2 linked regions of the Homo sapiens genome follow. The protein of the gene in region 1 interacts with the protein of each later gene in a pairwise test. Each region holds a gene or a part of one and is shown on either strand. Other genes may lie near its edges.

What was found.
Region 2: the proteins of TSHR (region 1) and SYT1 interact in a two-hybrid assay, tested with the Homo sapiens proteins (one large-scale study listed by BioGRID and IntAct).

What each region holds. Positions count from the first base shown.
Region 1 is NC_000014.9:81,143,714-81,147,141, reverse strand, and holds the end of TSHR (thyrotropin receptor isoform 1 precursor), read right to left. Parts: coding exon 2,789-3,428; 3' UTR 836-2,788; downstream 1-835. UniProt on the Homo sapiens protein: Receptor for the thyroid-stimulating hormone (TSH) or thyrotropin. Also acts as a receptor for the heterodimeric glycoprotein hormone (GPHA2:GPHB5) or thyrostimulin. The activity of this receptor is mediated by G proteins which activate adenylate cyclase.
Region 2 is NC_000012.12:79,298,232-79,302,066, reverse strand, and holds part of SYT1 (synaptotagmin-1), read right to left. Parts: intron 2,684-3,835; coding exon 2,516-2,683; intron 1-2,515. UniProt on the Homo sapiens protein: Calcium sensor that participates in triggering neurotransmitter release at the synapse. May have a regulatory role in the membrane interactions during trafficking of synaptic vesicles at the active zone of the synapse.

The sequences.
Region 1 (3,428 bases):
GTCTACCACTTGGAGCTGGAACTTTTATAGCTTTTAAAACAGAATGCAGTGATGCCAACAAGTTTCTCTGGCACCCTTTAGGTACTCAGAATGAATGAGAATCACTCAATTATGTTATGAAACAGTTTTCTCCTAAAGTAGGAGCATTTGTTCTCAAACTTCTATTGTTTTAAAAAAGTATTGTGGTTATAGTTTTCTTCTTTTTGCCCTGACTTTTACTTTATTGCCACTCTCATGGTGCTGCCCTGTAAGACCCTCTCCTCATTGGCTGCTTCTTTGATGCAGTAGATTATCCTTAAAGCAAGAGTCAATAAACTTTGGGGGTGTTTTAAGAGACAGCCTTTTGAGAAACATGCATGAGCTTTAGAGAATGAATTGTGTGACCTCCACTGCGACTAGTCTGTGGCCATTTATCCTCAATGATTTGGGTTTATCTTCAGATAATTGAAAGGTGCTAGATAACATGAGCTCTGAATAATAATAAGGCCTCTGAGGCCTTAGAGGTTTATTGTCTTCATTAGCACACTATTTAAATTTCTAGTGTCAATACCAATCATTTGCTTGATATATTTGGTTTTATTGTTTTTTCTCTTAGTGATCCCTGTCAATTAATCATAATTCAGTTCACCAGGAGTAAGTTTTTCCACATAAAGACCACTTTTGATCAAGACACAATGTTATATTTAAGTTATTAATTGACAGTCAACAACTTATTTATTAATATGGATTCATTAGCAAATGTGCCAATTAGTTTTCTTGTCTTCAGTTTTAACACATACAATAGTAACCCCGAAAGAAACTCACAGATTAACAAAAAAGAACAACACTCTAGGACTTGGCACGATTATTCCATAGGAAGAAAATTTATTTCATGTTGTGAGTGCAAATTTTAGTAACAATTCTGTTGAAGTCACTTTTCTAGGACTCTGTTTCCAAAGCAATTAGTTCAGCTATTCAAGATGAAACACATTATTTATCAAGATGTGATATTTTGAAATGTCACAGGAGAGAAACACATGACAAAAGGCAACACATTTGTTTAATTTCATTAGTTACAAGCGAACTTCTAGGTAAGTCATGATTTTCGATGTTTATAATATTTCTATTAAGATGTGCAGGTCTCAATGATAGTGATGAGTGGGTATGGCTGTGGAGAGATTCCAGGTGAGTCCAGCAGGGACCATCTGTGGGGACCCATTAACGACACTTCACAATCTTAAAACAACAAAGAGCTTTTATTTCATGGTGTGGTTTATGAGCATTCAGAAGTAATGTCATCTCTGCTTGGAGACTTTTCTAGCAGGACATTAGGGGGCTATCATCACAGGTAACCTGGAGAGTACATCTGTAGATAAAGATCCTGACTATTTTAAGTAAAGAAGAATTATTGGGGAAAAGAAGCTTTATGTCCAGTGATCAACAGGGCTGGAAAGAGCTGGCAGTTTCAGAAAAGAAGAAACCTCTCTTGACAGCTTTAGTATCATACCGTGGACTGGAAATGGCAAAAATCATCCCTAAAGACAAGCGAAGTGTTTTGAAGTGACTCTTCATAGTGAAGTAGCAACTCTAAATAGCCAAAATTTGCAACCATCGTTTACTCTTTTATATAAACACGAATCTGTTTTTGGCCTGATATAACAGCTGGGTAGATCTAGTAATTAAATGAATGATTCAGATCCAGGCGAGTATGTTTACTTAATTGAATTTTTGGCTCAGACATCATAATCAAAAGTGAAACAAAGGAAAAATTTCCTGGGTCATGTGTCTAGGCTTCAAGGACTAGGAGTCAGCAGCCCTACAAAATAGGAAAAACAGATTCTACTTACTTAGTGCTCTTCTTTCTCTTTATCTTAGAAATATATATTTGAGGGAAAGGGATGTACTAGAGTTTTAAAATTGGAAGAAGCTATTGGACTCCTTCATTTCTACAGATTTAAGTCCCATAGTTAATTAGTGTCCAGCCTGTTTTATTAATCAACAGGGGATTGAGTGTGCTCTGCCCATAATTCCCACTTATTGCTACTCAGAAAGACTTCCTAGAGTTCACATCTTTTATGCTATGAGGCTGGCCAAGAAGAGCAATTCTTAGTTTGCTAGGCCACATAAGCTGAAATCTTGCCAGTTTTTCCAGGCAACACATAATAGCTTGGTCACATCAGGTGGATTCTTGTGAAGAGATGATTAATAGGTTGAGTTAAAAAACAAAACAAAGCAAAACAAAACTTAAAGCTAATTCTTACCCTCCTTCATGTCTCATAATAGCTGTTTCTTGTATGACAGCTAGCTGTGTTTGGCTTTTCAGTTTTAAGGAAATCAAGTTCTCTTTGTATCAGGGAACATCTAGTTGAACTGAGCCAACGTGGGACTGATTTTATCTTGTGGTCACCAACCAAATTAATAGCATTTTCCATTTGCTGAATCTTTAGTATGAAATGTTATACAAAACTGAGAAGCTCTATATTGACATAGCTCAGTTAATATTTACTGAACATCCTACACAATGACATCTCTGGACTTGGCATCAAGAAAGTCTTCTAGATAGTGTAGATTATTTTGATTTCACCTGGCATTCAAATATGCTGGTAGCCTAACTTCCTTCTTGGGGGCAATGATTAGGTTAATACTAATCACTCTCCAGAGATAAACTCTTGCCCCATGAAACATTGAAACATCGCCTGCACAAGAGTGAGGGCAGCTATGTGTTGGGGGTGTCATGGGATTGGAATGCATATTCAAGAAACTATTATTTTGTAAGTTCCCCTACCATTGTGAGTAGTGTAGTGTTAACTTACAAAACCGTTTGCATATACTCTTCTGAGATTTGGCCTTGCTTCTTTGGGGTTAGATGGGAGTTTTCAATCAGTTCATAGACATCTTCCATGTTGTGGAGACCCTGCCTCATCTCGTGGGTAACCTTTTGAACCTGAATATCAGTGCTGTTCTTTGGAGGAACCCTCTGCCCCCGGTATGCCTGAGCCTGGCGTTTACAGATGCCAAACTTGCTGAGTAGGATGAACACATCCCTCTGGAAGGCCTTGGTGAAAATAGCATAGAGGAATGGATTGGCACAGGAGTTAAGTGGATAGAAGAGTACCAGCAAGATTTTGGAGTTGCTAACAGTGATGAGAGGCTTGTTCAGAATTGCTGACAGAGCATAGAATGAGATTGGGGCCATGCATATGAAGTCGGTGAAGATCAACACAGCCATCCTCTTGGCAATTTTGGTATCTTTGTCCCCTGGGTTGTACTGCGGATTTCGGACTGTGATGTAGATCTTCACATAACAGCAGCAGACGATGACGAAGGCAACTATGTTGAGCGTCAGAACAAAAACAATATATGCCAGAGCAAGAGGGGTCTCGGTGTCCATGGGCAGGCAGATACTGACTTTGGCATAGCTACTTATTCCCACCAAAGGAAGCAGGGCG
Region 2 (3,835 bases), on another chromosome or scaffold:
TACAATTAATGGACAGTGGCATGAAAAGTTAGAGCAGATATCATTGAGAATATGTAATTCTTCAGATATAAAATGCAAGTGGAATCTTACTTCCTTTATAATGAAAAAGTTTCTAACTGGGTCTAGTCATCCAGAGATACTTTGTAAGCTAGACATCTGTCTTATACAGTTTTTTATAACCTATACCTTGATAAAGAGAAATAGTCTAACTGAAAACCAAAAATTTCTATTCCTGAGTAGAAATCAAAGAGGAAAGTCTCTAGAGTTTTACGAGTGTAATGATAAAATTAATATTTCCCATTAATAACTCCTACAGATACTCAGTAAGTGCAATGGTGAGAAAAAGGATAGCGAAGTAGATAAAAATAGAGGGAAGAGACACAACAAATGAGGAGATGAACACACAAAATGGGGAAAGAGAACACACACACAAAATTAACCAAGAAAAAGGTATGAGAGACCTCTCACTTAGTGAACATTTACCATATGCCAGACTCTATGCTGGGTACTTCATGTTCTATTCTATTTCATCGGTAAGTAAGATAAGGGGTAAATCATGTTAGGCCACTTTCTAGGTTAAAATTCTGAATGGGCAGTTTACCTAAACCCCTAGATTCTAGAGTGAAACCCGTCAGCCTGGTGTTAAGTTTCAAACTCTGCTCGTACTCAAAGATTTCTGAAAGAGGAAACTTGCTCAATGGTCCACATTCCCTTAGCTCAGAAAAAAACATTGCACAATTTTTCAGAAACCCACTGGGTGTGATCTTGGATGTCATTACCACCTGATAATTATCCAGGTGAAAGTAACAAGTGTGAACCATGCACCCTGCACAAGTGGGCATTGTGAAGTACCAGTGGTTCATGTTCTCATATTCAACCAACAAGCCAACCAAACACCAGTCAATTAATAAAACCAATCAGTTAATAAACATTTCTTATGGTCCTACTTTATCACCCAAAAAATTTACACAAAGTCAAACACTTCAACAAAAAAGTCAATGAAACATCCCACTACTTTGTTAAATAATTATAAACATTGTAACTGAATGATCGAATTTTTTTTTTCATGAAGATGTCTGTAACATTACTATTAGTTCACTTATAGGAAAGAACTATCCATAAAATCATATAATTTTAAAACTCGGTATTTTTCCTGGGTATTCTTGAATATCCACAGTAGGGCTAAATCTGTGTCAATGTCTAAGAAAGGTTAGTCAACATTCTTAGATATTGAGACAGTAAATATATATATATATATATATATATATATATATATAATAAGTATACATGAATATTATATACAAAAATACTTAAGCTCTGCTCTCTTTTTTGGAAAGTATAAGTATACATACTTTTTTCCAAAAAAAAGAGCAGAGTTTAACTTAAGTATTTTTGACTCATTTTGTAAAATCAAATAGCAAACAGCAATGTTAGAGTGAAAAGTTCAATTTCAGCATGGGAATTAATAGGCCTGTTCTAAAACCTCATTTCATCATATAGGGGGTATAAAGTTCATAGCCTCAGATTGGTCACAGAAAACCTTAGGCTGAGAGGATTCCCAGGTGATGGACTTGATTGAGTTTCTCTGAAGGCCTGACGTTCTCTCTGATCTCCCTGGTGACCCCAAGAGGCCAGGGAATCCTAGGGACCTGGAGATCCTAAATGACTGAGCTGTCAGCAATCTCTTGCGTAATTACAGCCTTACGTCAGGAACTAAAGAGTGACTGCGAAAGGAGTTGTTTTAGGAATTTGGAGAAGCTAAGGGTTGTTTGCTTTTCTAGTATTGGTCTACTGAAATGTTTGCAGAGAAAAATGCTGGTGCCAGGCAGGCATCGCATAATCAGATACAATTGATTATTATGAAGCTTAAATGCACTAAACATATTGAACTTCCCTTTTCAAGTCATGGAAAAATACTGGGCTAAACTATTAAAACTGGGAATAAACAATGTGAGGAGTAGCATAAAAATGTGAGTCATTTAAAAAATGGATTTAATATCAGGCTTTGTGAATTATATTTGATGTTTGACCAATCATGCTCTCGTATCTTTAGGAGAAACAATGAACTGTCTGTGATATGCAGAAACAATCAAGGAAAAAGTACCATTTTATTTCTGTGTAATAGCTACATAACCTATGCAGAAAACACAAAATGATTGTGGAAAAATGAGAAATAAAATAATTTTTCGTTGTCATTTTAAAGCAGTAGTTTATGAGTGTGTGTGGCCTTTTGTAAGCTTTTAGAAAGAGTTCCTGTGGGCATGTGTGTTTGTTTGTGTCCAGGGTTGCTGTTTCTAGATCCAGTACACAAATGTCTCTCTTCTTTCAGATAACACCCAGAAGACCTGTACACTTTTTAACGAGGTGGTGCAGTGCCCTTGACCCTATTTTATCAGCTGTCAACAACTAGAGGCCCACATCCCCCTTTGTAAAGAGTATTTCTCAATAAGTTATTATATGAGCAGCAACTGGCGAGTACAGCTTGTGATGTTAGAAATGCTAGTAATTCCCTTACCTCTTCCTTCTCAGCACTTTGCAGGTCACGCCATTCCTCAGTTACATGGCCAAAATCCACTGTGTTCATAGGGACTTTAAATTCTCCAATGATGTCATGCTTAGAGAAACGATCAAAATCATATACAGCCATCACTAGGGTTTTGCCACCCAATTCCGAGTATGGTACCTAAATTAAAAGACATGAGGATAAAATATCCAGTCACAAAAATGCTTAAAACATGTTACTTGTTCATGGTGCTTAATTTAATATTTACGTTGCATAAACAGAACAGGGAGATAATTTTGTTTTTGGTTATTTTTTAAATTCAGACTTTTGACAAACTGCTTGAGGCTAAAATTACTTGAGAGAAAATGGGAAATTTTAGTGATTTATTGCCTTATCTCAAAGTTCTAGAAGCTGTTAGCATTATTAATAATGGATCCTGCTGTTAGTTATACTATAAAGCCTTAAGATTAATAAAACAATAAACAAGCCAATTGCATTTGACTATAAGTAAGTTTTTCTTGTAGAATATTTTGTTGTTATTGTTGTTTTAAGTTGTATTGTCAGGGTGTAACTTACTGAGGGGCAAATAACTTATTTCAAATGCTCCATTAACTCTTTCAAGGCATTTAAATGCCACAGTTCAATGGAGCAATGATTTATTAAAGGCTATGCTAGGAGTCTGAAAGGATTGAAATGATATTCACAAGTGCCTCACCTACTCCCTAAAATAATTTGCTGATTGACAAGAACTGACTAGGAAATTGATGTTTTGAATATAAGAGGTGCATTATAATATGGGTTTTGAAGTTCATTCTTGGGTATGACATGCCTTAGGATGAGTGGTGGCAAAAGGCCAAGAACTGATGAATTCTCCAGCTGTTCAAATATATCTGGGACAGATGCTATGGGTTGGGATGTTTATTAGTGACATTTTTAATATTCAGTGAAAGCAGTGCAATCCAAGTAAGCTACACTTCAGTAACTGGGTAGAAATACCTAATTAAGAAATTGTTTAGACTTGTCTTAAAGGTTTGATCAATTTTCATACACTTCCTATTATTTTATCAGTGTAAATGGTTGTCTTATGCTTCAGCAAACATTTCTCAATTAACTCTGTATATTAAGGAGGGAAGAAAAGGAAGAATATTGGGCCATCTACATACAAGAAATTTTAGTTTTCCAAAGAGTTTTTCTTTTCTGTCATTTATTTACCATCTGTTTGGAACCTGATTATTTTATTAAAATGATATGATTAAAAAGTAAGCATCATCCTTTTTCCATTTTAGAAGGAATGGAAAATAAACCCTTCCAAAGAGCTGACTCTCAAAGAAA